Linked DNA regions of Homo sapiens. The protein of the gene in region 1 purifies or fractionates together with the protein of each later gene. This does not show direct contact. Each region holds a gene or a part of one and is shown on either strand. Other genes may lie near its edges.

Region 1 (7,137 bases):
GTGGTTAAGATCTGAGGAGGAGGCCTGGACATTTTTTTGCACTGACTCTGATGGTTGAAGCAGGTGATTTAGTTCTGGAGTGCAGACTAATCAGCTGACCATTTGCTCTCACTCCTCTGAGGTTTGGATGCCTAAGAAGAGAGGATTTGAGCCAACAAATGACTATGGGGTGCTTGGAACCCAGTAAGCCCTCACTTCTGGTGGAGTAGAGGATGGGCCTGTGGCTACAGACAGACCTCATGTGACCCTGATCTCCCCTTTGTGTTTGTGTGACTCTTGCTCAGTCACTGTGCCTTCCTGTGCCTCAGTTTTCTCTCAATCAAATAAGCTAAATGGCAAATGGACTGTGGCTTTTCATGCTATCTGTGAATAAATGTTAAATTATTCACAGTCACCTGACCTAATGCTTGGCACAGTGGAGGTTTCACACAAACAGCATTTATTATTAATTTGCTTCCATGAGAAAGCACCTTTACGTCAGATCCCTGTGGACAAGCTGCTACCTGGTACATCTTCTCTCTTCTGTTTCTGCTTCTGGGGACATTAGTCTTTCTATGGACTATCCTAAGCCTCCTAAGGCAGTTGGGTGATGGCCTACAAAGCTTGTCTTTCTGTCCTCTCCACTCTGAGTATCAGGTGAAGAAAGCTCTGTCCTGGCCCAGATGAGGCTCTGAGGGCTGAGCCCTGGCTGGTGAACAGCTCCAGGAGACACAGTCCTCTGACAGCTGGTAAATCCTTGGTCCCAGTAAGCCCTGCCCAAGAAGCCACAACCCAGTCCCAGCACAGGCTCCTCAGCTTTATCTGGAACAAGGATTTAGGGACAAGGGTCTGGGGTTGAGGCTTCTAGGGCTGAGCTTCTCTGAGAGTATCTCAGGGGGCCCCTCAGGCCAAGCCCTACTCAGTTATCCAGGGTCTTTCTCAGGGTCAAATTTATGAAGAGGGCATGAGGTGCTTGGCTGAGACTGATCTCCTCCTGCTGAGTCCCCCCATCAGACTGTCCTTCCTCTGCAGCGAGTGTCTGCAGGGTCTGGATGCAGGAAAGGAATTCTGATCTGTTGAAATTTGTCTCCTCTGTGTGTGTCCTGCACTAAATGCCCAAATCCCAGCATGGGACATAACGCAGTGAGTGACACAGGCAGAGTCCAGGCCTGACAATCCTGTGTGTGTGAAGTAGAAGTGACCCCTGTCCCCCAACACCCAGGGATCATGTGGAATCACTTACGGTGTAAGGTGAAGGTGAAACGTCCAGTTACTCCTCTAGTCCCATCATCTCCCTTTATGATGTGTAAGGTGTAGGATCCTGCGTCCTCCCGGGTGACATTCTGGATCAGCAGGGATGCATTGGAATATGCTGTTTCTCGTCCACTATATGCAGGCCCATATATAATTATTTCACCGTCTACTACATATGATGTAATGTAATGGTAGAGGTCCCTCATTTGCCCTTTGTACCAGATGTAGCCGGTAAGATTCTGGGGCAAATTGTGGACAAGTAGAAGAACATCCTTCCCCTCGGAAACTTTGGTTGGCTCGGCTTCAATCGTGACTTGGGCAGTGGTGGGCAGGTTCCAGAAGTTTAAAAGTGATGCTAGGAGGTGGAGAGAACATCAGTCAATATTGAGACCTATGTATTGGTGTGAAAACATGGGGCCCTGGGTCCTGAGAAGGTCTCTTCAGTCCTCAGCCTTGACAACACAGACACACACACACATACAAACACACACACACACACACACACAAAAGCGGCATGTGTGATTGTGTGTGTGTATGTGTGTGTGTCCTACTGTCCTACTAGGTCAAGGTCAGCAGCATGACGCCCATTCCTTCAACACTTCTGACGTTGGCATTTTTCTGTTTGGAATCCTCTTCCCCAGGGGTCCGCATGGCCCCCTCCACAATGCCCTCAGGTCCTGCTTACATCAGGGCATCGTTAGACTTCTTTCCTGATGCCTGCTTCAGAGACCCTGGGTCTTCCCTTTCTGACCTTTCCCTGCTCTGCTCCCTCCAGGGTTCTTGTCAACACCTGACCTCACATTCTAGATCTCTTTGCATGTCTGTCTTCCCCCCCATGACAGCGTGAGCTCCGTGAAGACAGGGACTTTTGTGATCTTGGTTGCACCCCAGTGCCTGGAACAGGCTGCAGACTCCTGTAGATGTGAGAGTTCTCAGGGCCCTCCATGCCCTGGGTGTTTTTTTTCCCCCAATTGTTGAGGTTTCTTGCTGAGGACAGTGTTTCCTGCCCTGTTTATATTTTTATTTGAGGTGTCATCTGCTATAGTTATTATTATCATTTTTCAAAATATGGTGGCCCCTGATGATTAATCAGGAAAACAGAACACTTAAGATTTTCCTACCTCTTACCAATTCCGGTCCAATACGACTTTCCTGTTTTGACCCCTGTCCCTCTCTGGTGTATTTTCCCCTATCCAGGCTCCAACAGAGCCTTCTTTCCTTTTTTTCTTTTTTCTTTTTTTTTTTTTGAGATGGAGTCTTGTACTGTCGCCCAGGCTGGCATGCGGTGGTGCTATCTCAGCTATCTGCAACTTCTGCCTCCCGGGTTCACGTGATTCTCCTGCCTCAGCCTCCCGAGTAGCTAGGATTATAGGAGCACACCACCATACCTGGTTAAATTTTTGTATTTTCAGTACAGACAGGGCTTCACTGTGTTGGCCAGACTGATCTTGAACTTCTGATCTCATGATCCACCCACCTCAGACTCCCAAAGTGCTGGCTTCTTTCATTTTTTAGAACCCCATCCTCTCCAGGAGACCCCATCCAGTCACTCTGCTTCCTCCTCCTGTCCTCTCCCAGGAAGTTCTCTCCTCACCTGTGAGCAGGAGCCCCTTCCATTTGATGCGCTGTGTGCAGGGAGGGGCTGAGAGGGTTCCCATGGTCTCTGCTGCTTGTGTGTTCTCCTCTGTGGAGATAAGCCTAGGATCCAGAAACTCTCTGAGCACGGCTGTCAGCTGTGCTGTCCTTCCTCTTTCTGTGCTGAGCCTCTTCCCAGGGCAGGAGCAATTCTCAAGCTCATGGGCAGGGTCAGGCCCAGGACACCTCTCTGTCCCCTCCTCTCTAAGTCCTGCCTCCTTGTCCCTCCTTCTGTTTCTCCTTTTGTCTGTGTTTCAGGTCCCTGGGAATTGTGGCGGCCTCTGCCTTTTTCAGCAGTGATTCTTTCACCAAACCTCAAGACACACTTTGTGCAGACACACAGACACACACACACACACACACACACACACACACAGAAGAGATACACACAGACCCACACAGTCAGACACATACCCTGCAGGTTGGGCAAGAACAGTCCTGGGCCTCAGCCTCCTGGTGTCCCCATGGCTCTGGGTCGGGGTGCAAATTAACGCCCTTTGGCCTCTTTCATCCCCATCAGGCTCTCCCCTTCAGTGCAGGAGGCTGGAGCTGTACCAGGTCCCTGTCAGAATGATGCCCCATTGTGCTGTGGGTGAGCTGTGTGTTGCCTGGTGAGAGGGACCCTTCCTTTCTCTAATCATGTCTAGCTTGGCTGCAGCTTCCAAGGATGGACATTCAGGACCTGGGTGTCCCAGAGGAAACTGTCCTTTCTGGCGGTGTGCAGGGTGAATCTCTCATGCCTCTTGGGAGGAGAGGCCTGTGCTGGTTGCTCAGTGGGGGCTGTGAGTCCCATAGTCAAAGGGACAGTTCTCTGTCAGTCTATGGCTCCCTGGGGTCTGGCGGCTGAGCTGGAGCTCATAGTTTCTCATGTTCTTCCTGACCATCTTTGATGTCCTCTCTTCTCTGCCCAGCTGACTGTCCTGTGGTCACCACACCTTCCCTGTGGTGGTGCAGGAGGAAGTGGGGAGTTACCCAGGAACCCTGCGGGACATGGCTCATTGAGATGCGGGAGGGGGAGCCTGGGACAGAGCAGGGGTTCAGAGCTGGAGAGATTCATCCCAACTTACTCCGTGGCCATGATGGGCTCAGCCCTCCATATGCTGACATACCCAGGGGTCTGTCCTGATGGTTTTGACCTGGCCAAGCTGCTGTGTGTAGAGGAGGAACAGGCAGTGGCCAGAGAGCCTGTCTGGAGGGACATTGCTCTCACCTGAGAGGGCGGGTGGGGGTGAGTTGTGTTCTGAGATCAAAGAGCAATAACATTCCCCTTCTTCCCGCAAGCACACAGGAGAGGTCTGTCTTCCCAAGGGACAGCTGGTGTTAGGTGGCCACATCCCGGATGGTGCCTGTGTGTGACCATCACACGCGCTCTGAGCCCCCAGGGTGCAGCGGGCAGGCAGGTCACAGGGTGCCTGGCTGATTCCCGGGGAGGCTGTGGGCCCTCAGGCAGCCGCTGTTCTGTGTCAGCGCTAGGCTTGGCCTGGGATGCCCCAGAGAACAGGACAGATGGAGCAGGGGTGGGCATTTAGGGAGCAGTGCCAGAAAGAGTTGATGAGGATGGAGGGAGGTCACGAGGGGAAAGCACCCGGTGTGGCATCGCGTGCACCAGCGCTGCCCTGGGAGATGCCTTTAGCTGGGCCCAGGGAAGGAGCAGGTGTGTGGGGAGGAGCTACCTGCAGGGGGAGTGGTGTTAGGTTGGCGGCCGCCAGGTCAGGGAGGAGCTGACAGTGTCCGTGTGGGGAGCATGGAGGGCGCTGAGGACTTGGGCAGAAGTGACCCTGTAGAGGGTGGACACTGCTGGGCTGTGGGTTCCGCTGAGTGAGGTTGGCATCCCCTGGGAAGACTCCAGGCTGGGAGGGACTCTGTCCCCCTCTGGTGGACAGGGAGGGAAGTGTGAACGGCAGCAATTCCAGGCCAGGATGCATGTTTTATTCCACGTGGATCTGCACAGTTCACACGAGGTCACACCTGTGTTATGTTACAGCCCCATCACCTTCCAGCCCCGTGAGTCCCAGTCTCTGTGGCTCTATGTTCACTGTTCTCCCTCTTTCACAATCAGATGTCCCAAATGCAGATTTTTGTCACCTTCTGTGAGTTTGTGTTTGTGTGCAGTAGGCGGCACTGTGTATACCCTGGGGGCAGTGATGTCTGGGGCTGAGCACTGCAGTTGGGCTTGGGAGCAGCAGGGTGGGAAGATCAATGTCAGGGGGGCAGGGACAAGTCATTTTCATTTTCTCACTCCCAGGGACCAGAACCCAGGATTCTGACTCCAGGGCAGAGTACCACACCCTGCTGGTGTCCCTGGATGTCATGATGCTCATAGTGTCATGTTGCCTTGGCATTCATTTTTTAAGGTGTAAGTTTATTTGCCTCAAATCAGAGGCAGGGCTTGGTCACCATGGCAGTTTTCAATACTGTGTCTGGTTCAAGTGGCTCCAGTTGGTGTCCAGAGATCAAATCTTAGAGACATCTCTCCTGCTTGGTGTGCTGGGCTCCCGTCTCTCCAGCTGCTTTCTTTAAACTGATAATTCTGACATTCGCCCTCACATTAAAAGTGACCACCTCTCAGTCACAGCGTGAGCTCCTGTTCCCAGTGTTTGCTGCTTGCTTTGAACACATCCATTAAAGCTCCCTGCTGGAAACCTGTCAGATAACACCCTGGACTTAATAAAGCCATTGGCTTACCGGTCTCTTCTCTCCTCCCTCCCTGGGCTCACTGACCTCTGTGTCTGTGGTCTCCAGGTGTGCCAAGTGCTTCCCAGTGTCTGTAAGTAGTAAAAATACTTACACTTTCACGTTGTGGTTGTATTGCTGTGGCCTCACATGCCATCCAGGGCCTGACATTGAGGCTGCCTTATGGGACCTGTGCTGGCTGAGCCCCTGCTGGAGCTCTTGTTTTGGGGCCTCTGGTTCTCTTGGGGACAGGAGCTTCCAGCTAACTTGATTGAAAAACTGATGCATTTCATTGAAAACACTGGGTCAGATGATGTATTCATAGGCTTCAGCTCCTATAACAAACACCTTAGCCTGGGTGAATTAAATAATAGAAATCTATTTTTCACAGTTCTGTGAATAATGTGCTATTTTAACCACTTTAAAATGCACAATCAATGAAATTAACCGCATACACCGTGTTAAATTACCATCACCAGTATTTTTCCTAGAAAATTGTTATCATTTTAAACTGAAACTTTGTATCTTTTAAACAATAACTCCCTGTATGTTCCACCCTAGGCCTTGATCACCTCTACTCTGTCTCTATGAATTTGCCTATTCTTGATGTTTCATATAAATGGAATTATACAATTATGTTATTTTGTTTCTGACACATTTCACTTAGCATAATGTTTTCCAAGTCCATGCATGTTCCAGCGGGTGTCAGAGCTTCCTTCCTCTTTATGGCAGATTATCATTCTGTTTTATGTGTCACCATATTTGTTTATTCATGTGTTGATGAACACTTGGATTGTTTTCATATTTTATCTTTTCTGAATAATGCTGCAATGAACATTCCCATGCAAGTACCTTTTTGAGTCCGTGGATTTAATTCTTTGGGTATATACCTAGGAATGGATGTTATTTCAAATGAGAATTCTATAATTAGCTTTTTGAGGAACAGCAATACTCTTTCTCCTAGCTGCTGTACTTTTTTATATTCTCACCAGCCATGTATGAGGATTCCAAATTCTACATAATGCTGCTACTTGTTATTTAACATTTTAAAAGAACGGTAGCCAGTTTTGTAGGTTTGATGTGGTGTCTCATTGCAGCTTTGACTTTGTATTTTCCTAATGACTAATGATGTTTAGTATCTTTTCATGTCCTTCTTGACTATTTGTATATCTTCTTTGAAGAAATGTATATTTGAGTCTTTTGCCCATTTATAAATTTAATGGTTTCTCCTTTTGTTACTGAGTTGTAGCTAGTTCTTTATATTATCTGGACATGAAAACTGCCTATATGTGGTTGTCAAATATTTTCTCTCATTCTGTGTCTATTAATTATTGTCTTGATAATTTTCTTTGATGTACAAAAGGCTCACATCTTGATAAAGCCCAATTTATCTTGTTTTTCTTGTTTCTCATGCTTTTGTATCATATCTAAGAATCCATTGCACATTTGAGTTCATCAATATTTACCTCTATGTCTATTTTAAGATGTTTTATAGGTCTGATATTTAACTCACTGATGAATTTTTCAGAGAATTGTTTGATATGGTGGGAGGTAGAGTTATCTAAATTCACTGTTTTGCATGTGGTTATCTAGTTG
Region 2 (7,207 bases), 560 kb from region 1:
TAAGGCCAGAGAGTGATTTATATCCAGCACACAGACCCCTTCGCCACACACACACACACACACACACTTCCTATTCTGTTCTCATCCCACTAGCTTGACAGGAATGGCCCCCAAGCTGGGAACAGGTAGACATGCTATCACTGAGAAACAGGCCTTCATCCATACCCCACACAGCAGCCAGAGAGATCTTCTAAAACATAAATCAGATCATGTCCTCTCCCTGCTCAAAACCCTTCCATAGCTCCCCAGAGCCCCCAGACAAAGACAAAGCTCCACAGCCTCCCAAGGGAGGCCCTGCATGATCCAGGCTCTGTCACACCTCTGGCCTTTGCCCAGGACCTCCCCTGTCTGGAGGCCAGCTTTTACATCCACTACTCTGTGAGGCCTTCCTGGGCTTCTGCAGGTACTGCCTTTCAACTTCTCTTTCACCCCTGTATTGCCCTCAGGATACAGCTCAAAATCACAGAGCCCTACACCTGCTGGCTCCTCCCACCCTGCAGCCTCTGGCTCATTCGTTGTCTTGTATTCTATGTTTTTGTTTTTGTTTCAGATGGAGTCTCGCTCTGCCGCCCAGACTGGAGCGTAGTGGCACAATATTGGCTCACTGCAACCTCCAGGTTCAAGTGATTCTTGTGCCTCAGCCTCCTGAGAAGCTGGGACTACAGGCGCGCGCCATCACACCCAGCTAATTTTTGTATTTTTAGTAGAGATGGGGTTTCACCATACTGCCCAGGCTGGTCTCAAACTCCTGACTTCAGGCGATCTGCCGGCCTCGGCCTCCCAAAGTGCTGGGATTACAGGCATGAGCCACCATACCCTGCCAGTATTCTATGTTTTAACACACTGGATTTCTAGTTCTTCAAAAGCATCACTCTCCCGCTTCCCCGCCTTTGCACAGCTATTCTTGCCTGGAATGCCCTTCTGCTCCCTCGTACAGATGCCTCTGATCTCAGCTATACCCCAGGTTAAGCCACATGTCTTCACAGAGAAAGAGCCACTGGGGCAGGGTTCTGAGGCATGCATAGGAGTTTATTGGGTGGAAAAGGAAAACAAACAGCCTCGGAGTGGGTTTGTCTCTCCCACTGACTGGGAGCCCAGAAGGGTAGGGCTGGGGCCTTTCCTCCCACTCCTGACAGATTCCTATTGGTCCTTTAAGTCTCAGCTTAGACATTTCCTCCTCCAGGAAGCCTCTCTGTTCTCCCCGGCCCCAGATCAGGCACTTTCTCTGGGCTCTCCCAGGCCTCTGGGGTTCCTCCATCAAAGACCACTCTTGTCTCTCACTATTAATGTGTTTGTCTCCCCAACTAGACTCCAAGACCTAAGTCACCAGGGATTGCTGGAGCTGTCTCAGTCTGGGCTATGTCCAATGGGAAACATAATGTCTGGCACATGAATGACTGAAGAAAAATGCTTTTATTGAAGTACTTCACAAATAACAACAACAATAATCCTAATGCCATTTATTGAACAGTTACTATATGCCACACATCAGGCATGTTAAATACCTGTTTTCATTTCATTCCAACAACTCTATGAGGTGAGTACTGTTGTTATCCCATTTGTGGGGGAAGGAAACAGAACCTCAGAGAAAGAAAACCACCTGCTCAAAGTCACAAAGCTAATAATAAGAAGCCAGGCACAGTGGCTCACACCTACAATCCCAACACTTTGGGAGGCTGAGGTGCGAGGATCGTTTGAGCCCAAGAGTTCAGGACTAGCCTGGGCGACATGGTGAGACTCTGTCTCTACACACTCAGTTACTTGGGAGGCTGAGGTGGGAGGATCACTTGAGCCCAGGAGGTCGAGGCTGCAGTAAGTAAATTGTGTTGGTACCATTGCACTCCAGCCTGGGTGACAGAGTGAGGCCCCCATCTCAAAAAAAAAAAAAAAAAAAAGTAGTAGTAGTAGAACCAAATTCAAAGCCAAATGATTGGACCCAGACCCTGAGTTCTTAACAGTTACTCAGAAGGCCCGGCACTGATGCTCCTGTCTTGTAATTGTAAATCTGGGTGTAGGTGCATCTCCCCCACCAGACTTGGAGGCCTTCCAGGGCAGGGCCCAGGTTGGCTGCAACCCTGGGTGTCAGGCATTTTAGAGCAAAAGGCCTGGACCAGAACCGAGCTCTGGGAATGTGGTGAGTGGATGAATGCACACATGAATGAACTACCAGCGAATTAGTGAGTGACCCACGCGGCCCCACTCACCCTCGATGAGCCACTCGCAGTTGCCATTGACGCTGTAGTTGCCCGCACCATCCGTCACGAAGCCTGGCGCCTCCCGCAGCACCTGCCGCTGCCCCTTGCAGTCCCCCGCCCGGGCCCCAGGGGACAGCGACCCCAGCACGGCCAAGGCCAAAACCAGTGCCATGGCCAGAACCTTGCCCAGGGCCATCGCCGCCTCCTGCACTGACCCTTAGAGCGGGGACAGGCCGTAAAAACCTGGAGAGGACCCTCTACCCGGGGTGAGGCCCTGCAAATGCGACCTCTATAGGCATAACATGACCTTGTAGATCGAAGAGGTCCCGGAGACCCGGCAGTCCCGGCGAAGGGTACGGCCACTGCTGACAGGCTCTGGAAGCCGAGGGCTGAGCCCTATAGAGCGATGGAAGGCCCTGTATATGGAGTCATTATGGACGGGGCCGAACCCTAGGGACCGTAGGAGTCCCCTATAGACACAGGGCTCCATAGGGGGCCGATCCCATGAACAGTGCCCAGCATTACGGACTCAGGCTGCTGCAGGCCAAACGGACCTTATAGACGGGTGGGTCCCCAGGGGGCGAAGGGCTCTACGGCCCGGCAGGAGCCTCCATAGAGGCTGCGGGCCGGGACAGGCTAGGTTCGGATGGTCCAGGAGAGACTCCTCCAGCCGGGGGCGGGGCGCGAGCGGGTGCCGGGGGCGGAGCCCGTCTTCAGGGGTTCGGGCCTGGACCCCACAGACCCAATCCCTTTGCTCACCCACCCTCGCCTCCCTCCGAAGCCGGATGGGCCAGATCAGAGAGACGAGGGGACGCTTGGGCCAGAGCGGCCGCGGGAAGACCCGCTGTGGGAGGGCGAGGGGGCGGGAGCCGAGCAGCCGCTGTGGGAGGGACGGCGAAGAGGAGGCGAGAAGTTACAGAGCGGCCGGTCAGAGCGGCCCTGGGAGGACTGCGGAGCGCCCAACCCCAACCCTCCATAAAGGGAGACTTCCGGGGAAATCCCCGCCCATTTGTTCCCAACCGCATGCGCAGCAGCGTCCTCCTGGAGGGAGAGAAATACACATATGCGCAGTGCTAAGATCGTAACCCAAACTCTGGGTGCCTGTGGTTCAGCAAAGCATGGGCCACTGGAGGGCGCCTCTACCTCTGAGTGAGGAAAGGAAGGCAAAAATAAAGGAGCGGTGCAAGACCCTGCTAGATGTTTGATCATCTTCAATGTTCCCACATTCTGGGGCAACATAAAGATCAGGTTATACAGGCCCCTGCCTCCGGTTCCAAATTCCCATTTCACAGATGGACACACTGAGGTCCCGAGCCTGACATAGTTCTGGCTCAGCCCCGCCGCTGAACACCATCAAGATGCAAAAGAAGCCATGTTATAGATAAAAACGAATCCTTTTTTATTTTGGCAAGAAGGGGTAAAATGTCTTTCTGCCAGGGACCCGAGGGAAGGCCCCCGGAATGGAGATGCGGCAGATGGAGTACGGGTCCGAGGTCACAGATCCGAGGGAGGGTTTCAGGGTCGAGACCAGCATCGCAATATCCATCCCGGGGTCGCAGAGTCCTGGAGAGTCACAGGCAGGGTCCCGGCGGTCACCACGGGTGTTCCGGAGTCCAGCGGGGTCAGAGGTCTCGAAGGGGGCCAGGGGGCCGGAGGTCACGGAACAGCGGGAGCCCAGAATCCGGCGCCGCTCGGGGCAGGGGCTGAGGGAGGGGACGGGGAGAGCGGCTCCCGCGGGACCGTTTGGCACAGAGGGGAGGGGGGCGGGACGCAGCGTACCCAACCTGGGCGCGCGGGGTGGGAAGGGTCGGGAAGGCCGGGGATGGGCGAGCTCTCGGGCCGGGATAAAGCAGGGGTCCGGAGCCCGGCCGGGGCCCGGTCATGGCCCATGGGGCAGGGGCGGGCAGGGGTGCTCAGACCGGGGGTGCAGTGCCCCCGGCCGTGTGCATGCTGAAGTATTCGGTGAAGCCGGTGTGCGGCGCTGCCGTCTGGGGCACGAGCGGCTGGTAGGGCGGCGTCGGGCCGTCCCAGCCCGAGTCGGCCGCCTTGGGGAACCGAGCGGGAAGTGGGGGGGAGGCTGCGCCCGGCTCGGCCATGGTCACCACGCGGCCCCTCGGGGCCACCGCCGCCGCCACCGCTGTCTCCTCCACCTGCTTCCCGGCCTGGGAGGGGGGTCAGGGTCAGAGGCCGTCCGGGACCCTCGGGGGGCAGATGCGGCCCCGAAGGCCCGTCCCCCTCCCCCGGAGAACCCTTCCACCCCAGGTGTGGACGCACGTTGTCAGTCAGGGAAGGACTGGGTGGCGGGGCGCCTGGGCAGCGGGGCCAGGTACTCAAAGGGCGGCGTCGGGGCGCGCGGGGCGAACTCCGGCGGCGGCCGGGGAGCTGGGGGAGAGCCGCGGAAGGCGGGCGGTGGGGGCACGGCGCAGGGAGTCTGCGGGGGTGTGCGCAACAGCGCCAGAACCCAGTCAGGCAGGGTGGGCGCGGGCGCCAGGGGACGGTCGCGGCGCGGTGTTGGGGCGCGGGGAGTGCGAAAGGCAGGAGGAGGGCTCAGGGGTCCGGGCGCTGGGGGCGGCGGCGGGGCCGGGAGCGGGGTCAGGTACTCCAGGGGCGGCGCCAGCAGCTCCTCGGGCGCTGGGGCCGCGGGGCTTACGGAGGTGGCGGGCGGGGGGATGGAGAAGAGCTCCGTGAAGTTGGGCACCGAGTCGCTGATAAACGTCACGTTCCCATAGACGTGCTGCGGGAAGGCCTTGTCAGCGGATTGGCTCCCTCCGGGTCCAGGGACTCCGGCTGAAGCGATCTGCGACGTGCGCACGTGGTACGGGAAGTTCTTGTTGGCCGCTGATGGGCGGGTCATGATCTGAGGCCAGGGCCAGGAGCAGGTGTGAGAGGCACTGTCAGGCCGGAGGCTGTCCCCATAAACTTGGGGTCCGAAGGATTCCCTTTCAGTTGACATCCACCACACTTCCCTGAAGCCATTCACACTGGATTAGGCGTCCCCTCTGGGCTCTCCAAATGCCCTGGACCCTCACCTTTTCCCTTCAACAAAACTCGGCCTGTGCTTCCTCCATCAGAGGCCTGATCACTGAGCTGTCACTGATTGCTTAGGGTCAGCGTCCTGCACTGTATGATAGCCACTGGCTGCATGTAGCTTAAATTTAATCAAAATAAAATTTAAATTTTGGTCACACTCCTCACTACACACTCACTATGCACTACCCACATTCAAGTGCTCAACAGCCACATGTGGTTAGTAGCTCCCATATTGGAAAGTGCAGGTAATAGGATATTTTCATAAATACAGAAAGTTCAATTGGACAGCAACTAATAGACTCTAAAATGTCTCGATGAGGCAGGAACCAGACTCTTCTGTTCCCTACTGAGTCCCTAGTACCTTCTAGAACCATGCCTGGCGCATATAAGCCTTCAGTAAATATTGGTGGGCAAGGCGCCATGGCTCACGCCTGTAATCCCAGCACTTGGGGAGGCCGAGGCGGGCGGATCACCTGAGGTCAGGAGTTTGAGACCAGCATGGCCAACATGGTGAAACTCCATCTCTACTAAAAATACAAAAATTAGCCAGGTGTGGTGGTGCGCCTGTAATCCCAGCTACTTGGGAGGCTAAGGCAGGAGAATTGCTTGAACCCAGGAGGCAGAGGTTGCAGTGAGCCGAGATCATGCCACTGCACTCCAACCTGGACGACAGAGGAAGATTCCATCTCAAAAAAAAAAAATTTAAAATAAATAAATAAATAAATAAATATTGGTGGAATGTAGGGATGTCTGGTACCAGTTAGTCTGATAGGCTGTGAAGGCAGGGACTGGGTGTGACTCCACCGCCATATCCCGGAAACCTAACACAGCTCTTCTAAGGTTGTGCTGAAAAAAATGAACAAGGAGCTGAAAGCAATGAGCGTTGAGATACCCAGGTGGAGCTGTGCTGAGCTAACGTGAGCATCCTTAGGAAGGAAGCTGGCTGAGATACAGCAGGAAGGGCGCTGTGCTTGCCGTTCTGAGCCTGCATCCCGCCTCTGGGATCTGTAGCTCACTGAGTATGGGATCTGGGGCATGTTGATTAAACTCCCTGAGCCTCGCTGTGGGGAAAAGGGACTGTAGCGCCTACTTGGAAAGATGAGAGGGTGGAAATGAAAACCACTGGTGCAGAGCCCAGCACATGATGGGTTCTCAGCATTTCTCCTCTTTCTGTCCCTTTCTGACTTCCTGCAGAGCTTCAGGATAGACCAGCCTGGGAAGGTGAGCGAGTCTGTACCTATGTCAGCCTCTGAGGCAAAGGATGGGGACCTGTCCCCTCCCTCGGTGGCTGGGCCCACTCCCTACACGGGGTACGTTGTAGATCCCTGGAGTCAGAAGCTGGGACACTGGGTCATGCCTGTTGCCCTTTCTGGTTCCCCTTCATTTCAGACCTTGTGGTCTGCTGGAGAAGGATAGGGTTCAAAGTATTTGCCTGCCGCCAAAGGCCACGGAGCCCTGGCACGTCACTTCTCCTCTCTGGGCCTTAGCTTCCCCGCTCTGTGTAGTGGGAACAATGTCAATTATCCACCCTCTCCTGGAGCTGCTCTGACAATTAAACAAGAGGGCAGGAGTAAATGCATATGGATGTTCCTAGAATGAAACAGACTGGTTCAAGACAGGTGCCCAGTGAACAATTGATGAATAAATTAATGAATATTAGAACTGTCACCAAGAATGTCAGATAGGATGTGAACCAGGGCAAAGAATAGACGTGGTGGGGGCCAGGCGCAGTGGCTCACTCCTGTAATCCCAGCACTTTGGGAGGCCGAGGCGGGCGGATCATGAGGTCAGGAGATCGAGACCATCCTGGCCAACATAGTGAAACCCCGTCTCTACTAAAAATACAAAAAAAATTTGCTAGGCGTGGTGGTGGGCGCCTGTAGTCCCAGCTACTAGGGAGGCTGAGGCAGGGGAATGGCATGAACTTGGGAGGCAGAAGTTGCAGTGAGCCGAGATCGCACCTCTGCACTCCAGCCTGGGCA
Region 3 (5,130 bases), on another chromosome or scaffold:
ATGGCACTTCCCACTGAGCTTGGCTGCCTGCAGCCCCAACCAGCGCATCGTCGTCTGCCACCTAGAATGTCGTCTGGCAGTGCCTGGGCCCGAGATGGCTTCTGTGACCACCCCGCTCCCTACGTTTCCCTCCCTGACGCTACTCTCCCAGGCAGCAGTGGGGATCAGGCCAAGGATGCTGGTGAGAAGTCCAGCTCTCGCTAGTCCCCACGAGCATGGCTGAGTCTCCTGCCTCCAGCTGGGCCCAACTGCCCCTGTCCCTGGAGGCCCCTTTCCATCCATCCTGTAAGACTCTGACGTTAGCTTCAGAAGCCACCAGGAGGTCCCCTGCACACTGTGGCCTCTGCACCCCAGATCATGGCCCCTGTTTGTCCACAAGCATTTTTTTTCCCCTGTTCTGGCCACCTGTTGGAGCTCTTCATAGGTGTGAGCGTCTGCATCGAGTTCCCTGTCATTCTCCAGAGCTGTTTGTCGTAGGTCCTGCTGTTGGAGGGCGCCCACTAGGACTCTGAGAGGTGAGACAGTTGGCATCACATGAATGGTGAGTCAGGGCTGGAGCAGGACTTGAGCCCTGAGTGTGCCGCCTGCCTGCAGGCGCCTCTGGGGAGCTGGCCACGGGCATCCTCACGTCTGCGCCCCTGGCACAGAGCACAGGCTTGGCCAGCAGCCGTCCAGAAGCGGCGGGGAATTGCTGAGCTGGAACCTGAGCGACCTCCAGGGCAGCCCCTTGCTCCAGTGTTGCGGTTGGATCCACAGCCTAGGGGATAGCAGCCAGCGGCTGCAGGAGGCCCCCGCTTACCCACTAAGGGTGATCTTGCTGTGAACATTCTCTCCTTCTCTCTCTTTCTCTCCCACTGGGCACCCCGTACTCCAGGCCCTTTAAGGCGCAGACTCCCAACCCTTCTTTCCCACCCGCCTCCAGCATGGGGGGGCTGCCGAATGCAAGGCAGGCATCCGGCTGCCGACAGCTTGTCTTCTCTTCAGGGTGTTGCTGGGGCCTAGCCACTGGGGTGCAGGGCAGGGTTCCAGTCCTGGCTCTGGGAAAGGCCGAGCTCATTAATCCACTGTGGGCTCCGTCACTGCTGCAGGAGGGACAGTACAGTACATTCTCTCCTGTCTTAAAGAAGTTGCTACAGATGGGAAATCCCAGAGCACAGGCCTGAGGATTTCTGCCAGCCTTGAGGGTTGGGCCTGGCTAAGCAAGTGCCCAGGACGGAGTCCGTCCGTCCAGGCATCAGCAGTCATTCGTTCCTGTGCCAGGCTGGGGGATAGAGCAGCATCCCACCCTTGATGGGGCAGGCTGAGCCTAGTGGGGCAGGCCCTACACCAACAACCCACAGGATGCACGTTGGCCAAGACCTGCTGCACACAGGAAGTGCAGGGCGGCCGCTGACCCTTGTCCACTCTGCAAGCTGGAGGATTAGCCCATTTCACAGTTGAGGCCAGGCCCCAGGGAGCACCTGCCAAAAATTAAAGGGACCCAGCCTGAGAGGGAACAAAGGGACCCAGCCTGAGAGGGAACACAGGAGCCTGGCCCCGAGGCTCCCCAACCCCTGTGCCTCTAGCTGTCATCTGTATTCCTTTCAGCAACTCAGGGTGCCTTGGGGGACACCCCCAGGTAGGTAGCGTGGCTGTTTAGTTCCAGGTAGCAGTGAGGCCTTGCCCTGAAGGGACCACATGTCAGCATGTGGCGTGCTGGGATGGGGCCAAGACCGGGCAGCCAGGCCCCAGAGGTTCGGGTTTGCAGTCTTAGAGCATCTCAGGATGGTTAGGGCCCCTGTGACCCCAGCTTCTCACTTGTGAGGAGCTTGAAGGGATTTGGGGGCCTTCTCAGTCGCCGAACCCAGCCTCTGTATCTGGAAACAACTTGAGCACGTGGGGAGGGCAGAATTCCTGCAAAGCAGCCTTCAGAGAACAGACGGCCCAGCACTGTGTGGGATGGAGAGGTGTACCCCACTTAAAGGGGACAGCCGTGGAGCCTCAGTGCTGGCTTCAGTGTTTAATTGAAATGTAACTAAGGTTACTTAATACACACAAGCATACAACTAGAAAGCCCCTTATGTTCTTGTTCTTACACAACTAAAACTAACACGTACAGCTTAAATACAACCAAAGCCAAAAACCGCGGACAGCGTCACCATTAATCACTGCTTTGCTGAGGCTCCTTGCCTTATGGAGTGCATGAACACTCAGGGTTGCTAGAGTGCTCCGCCTGCCTGTGCCCGCCTGTGCGAGAGGGCTCACCTTTTCCTTTCAGGGCCTCGGAGTGGTATGTGAGAGGGAACTTACTCTATTAGGGGAATTGGCTCACTTGGTGATAGAGGCTGAGAAGTCCCATGATAGGCTGCAAGCTGCAGAACCAGGAGAGCTGGGGACAGACCTCAGCCCAAGGACAAAGAGCCAAGAGCCTGGGGTGGGGGTGGGGTGGTGGGCAGCAAGTCCCAGAGGCCAGAGAACCTGGAGCTCTGATGCCCGATGGCAGGAAAAGAGCAACCTAGCTCCAGAAGAAAGAAACCTGAGTCCCCATTTCCTTAGCTTTTTATTCCACCAGGGCCCCTGCCCATCTGATGGTGCTCACCTGCAACCACGGCTCTCACGCCGGTCACCTCTGGAAGCACAGACTCACTGGGGCGGCCTGGCCATTCGAATCAAGTACCAAGCCGCCTGGGTTTCCCTTCCAGCACTGAGAATACGTAATGTGTCCCCGGGCGTCTGGGTATCCCCGAATCCAATCAAGTTGACACCTGAGTCACCTGCCACTCAGTGGGGAAAGCAGGCCTGGGGTGCCTGAATCACCAGACTGCGCTGCCGGTGAATGGTGGATCTGGCGTTCTCACGCCCGAGCCTCATGGGCAGCTGTGTCATTGTCATTTTGTTCCAGATCAGGTCAGAACAGAACAATGTGGCCACTGATTGATTTTCTCTTCCTCTCCTCCCTCCACAGACCGCGGCCTTCAGTGTCACAGCGTGGCCTTGCTTGTCTGCCACAGCGGGAGCTAAGCCGGCCCTGGGCCAGCACTCCGAGAGGTGGAAGGGGCCCTGCCAGCTCTGGGGAGCAGCAGCCTTGGGCTGTTCTGAGCTTTAGGCAAGAGAAGAGAAGCATCTCTTGCATCCGTGCCCCTGGGGGCCTCTTCAGCTTTGCAGTGGTTTGTGGGAAGACATACCTCCCAGAGGGGCATGGACTGCCACCAGGACTGACCCTGGCGTCGGGGAGAAGGACACTTGCAGAGCCTTGAGATCACCTGTTTGGCAGGTCCTGGACTGGGGCCGGGCAGGCAGGGGCAGGGAGGCGCCCCGGGTGGGCTTTGGGGCTGCGGCACTGCCACACATCCTTTCCCTCCTGGCCTGCCCTGCTGGGGCTCTACTGCCATCTATAGATGGTGTCCTGGGCCTGGGAAACTAGGTTCCCAGGGGTTGAGACCAGAAAGGTGACCAAGACAGATTTTTTAAGGTGCAGAAACTGCAGGGGGGCCTCAGTGACATCCATGAGGCCTTATTAGCAAAGGACACCCAGACCTCCAAGGTTTGTGGGCCCCTTCCACAAAGCTGTAAGTCCCAGCCCACCTACTCAGGGCCTTGCTCAGTGCTGTGGCCCGGTGGGGACACAGTTGCTCGTGGCCACTCAGTGGAGCTGGGCCTGCAGCAGACTCAAGGCTCCGAGTGCCCTGGGGGTCACCCCTCCCCTCCCCTCCTCAGAGCCCACCCTGAGAGGCAGCAGTGACCCCCATGGCACACACCTGCCAACAGCACTGGGGGCTTCTCCCCAGGAGACCACGCTGCCCTCCAAGACCAGGAGCAGCTGTGAGCTGGAGACAGCAGAGGGACCCCAGGGTGTCCCCTGCAGATCCCACCAGGGCCGCATCCATCTCAGTGTGGAGGACAGTGACGGGACCCTCACCATCCTCTTGCGTTTTGGCCCCCATTTGCTCCCTGAGCTCCAAGATAAGAATGGCCCCGAGAGAACTGCTGAACATTTGTTCATTGCTGTCACCTCCTGAGTCACTGGGGTCCCTCACCAGCACCTCCCTGACACCTGGGCTATGGAGAGGTTGGCGCCTGTCAGTGACCATCCTAATGCCTCTCGCTCACTCCCAAGCCACCATTTGAGAGGGAGGGGTGTTGGTGCCCTGACAGGGACTGGGCAGGGTGTCCAAACTTGGGGCTTCCCAGGCACCTGCAGTGTGAACACTGCTTGGCTGGCTCAAGATTAGGGCCGCGGAGGGGGCTGTGCACATACCAGTTACTTAAGCAGCCACGAGTGTCCCCCATGCCTTGGTGCGGGTCCTGGAGGCCTCTTGGGGGTGGGACCTTTGGGCAGGGTTTGCCCACTGACACGCCCGCCATGGGGCACTGGCTGCATGGGGCTCCTTGGACCCTGTAGACCCAGCAGACCCCGCCTGTGTCAGGCCAGCTGCCCGAAGGCACTTGGCTGTGGTCCCAGGGGACGGCTCTGCTGGCACACTCAGGAGCCTGGCCGCGGGGACTGCAGGGAGGGTGCCTGGACCCGTGGGGTTGCTTCATTGAGATAAAGCACACTTATCACATAGCACAAAGGACGTGCCATGGTGCTTTCCCCAAAAGTTGTGTTGCTTTTATCAGTTTTCTAACTTAATAAAAAGAGTTGAGAAAATTCTTTGCCTGCCTTGTGTGCTGGGATCAGTCTTGGAGACATTGCTGGTGGCTGACTTTGGTCTTGTCCCACCAGCCAAGGCTCAAGGCCTGCCTGCTGGCATCTGCCCCTCTCATGAGCTGGGAAGGGGGAACCCACCCAGATGAGAGGTCTCCCCATTCCTGTGCCTCCTGAAGTTGCTTTAGAAGCCATGAAGTTGATTCCGTGGAGAGTCCTGATCCTGTCTGCCCCTCCTGAGAGTGATTCTCTCCTGGAAACTCTGGTAAATAGAAGTTGGGAATGTAATTCCATCCATTCGAAAAGGCAGAACCTCCAGTTGATGCTCCTTTGTCTGAAAATAACCCGAGCGCCATTCAGAGGGGCGAAATGGCTCCAGGAGGCAGCTTCACGGCCGCAGCGCCAGCTCACGGCACCGTTGCGCCCACTGGTTGCACCGTGGGCCCTGGGCTACCTGCCCTCCTTGTGCGTTTTCATAGTCACCATGAACCTCATGAGCTCAA

The links. The genes of interacting proteins can lie anywhere in the genome.
Region 2: the proteins of PSG1 (region 1) and MEGF8 purify together in Homo sapiens (affinity purification with mass spectrometry; 2 studies listed by BioGRID and IntAct, with this or other methods). This does not show direct contact.
Region 3: the proteins of PSG1 (region 1) and KLHL25 purify together in Homo sapiens (affinity purification with mass spectrometry; 2 studies listed by BioGRID and IntAct, with this or other methods). This does not show direct contact.

What each region holds. Positions count from the first base shown.
Region 1 is NC_000019.10:42,876,691-42,883,827, forward strand, and holds the start of PSG1 (pregnancy-specific beta-1-glycoprotein 1 isoform 2 precursor), read right to left. Parts: upstream 3,024-7,137; 5' UTR 2,892-3,023; coding exon 2,828-2,891; intron 1,589-2,827; coding exon 1,223-1,588; intron 1-1,222.
Region 2 is NC_000019.10:42,321,428-42,328,634, reverse strand, and holds the start of MEGF8 (multiple epidermal growth factor-like domains protein 8 isoform 1 precursor), read right to left. Parts: upstream 3,001-7,207; 5' UTR 2,392-3,000; coding exon 2,205-2,391; intron 1-2,204. Other genes in the region: TMEM145 (transmembrane protein 145 isoform 1 precursor), read right to left, coding at 4,109-4,357, 4,846-5,052. UniProt on the Homo sapiens protein: Acts as a negative regulator of hedgehog signaling.
Region 3 is NC_000015.10:85,758,826-85,763,955, reverse strand, and holds the end of KLHL25 (kelch-like protein 25), read left to right. Parts: intron 1-2,944; 3' UTR 2,945-4,630; downstream 4,631-5,130. UniProt on the Homo sapiens protein: Substrate-specific adapter of a BCR (BTB-CUL3-RBX1) E3 ubiquitin ligase complex involved in various processes, such as translation homeostasis and lipid synthesis.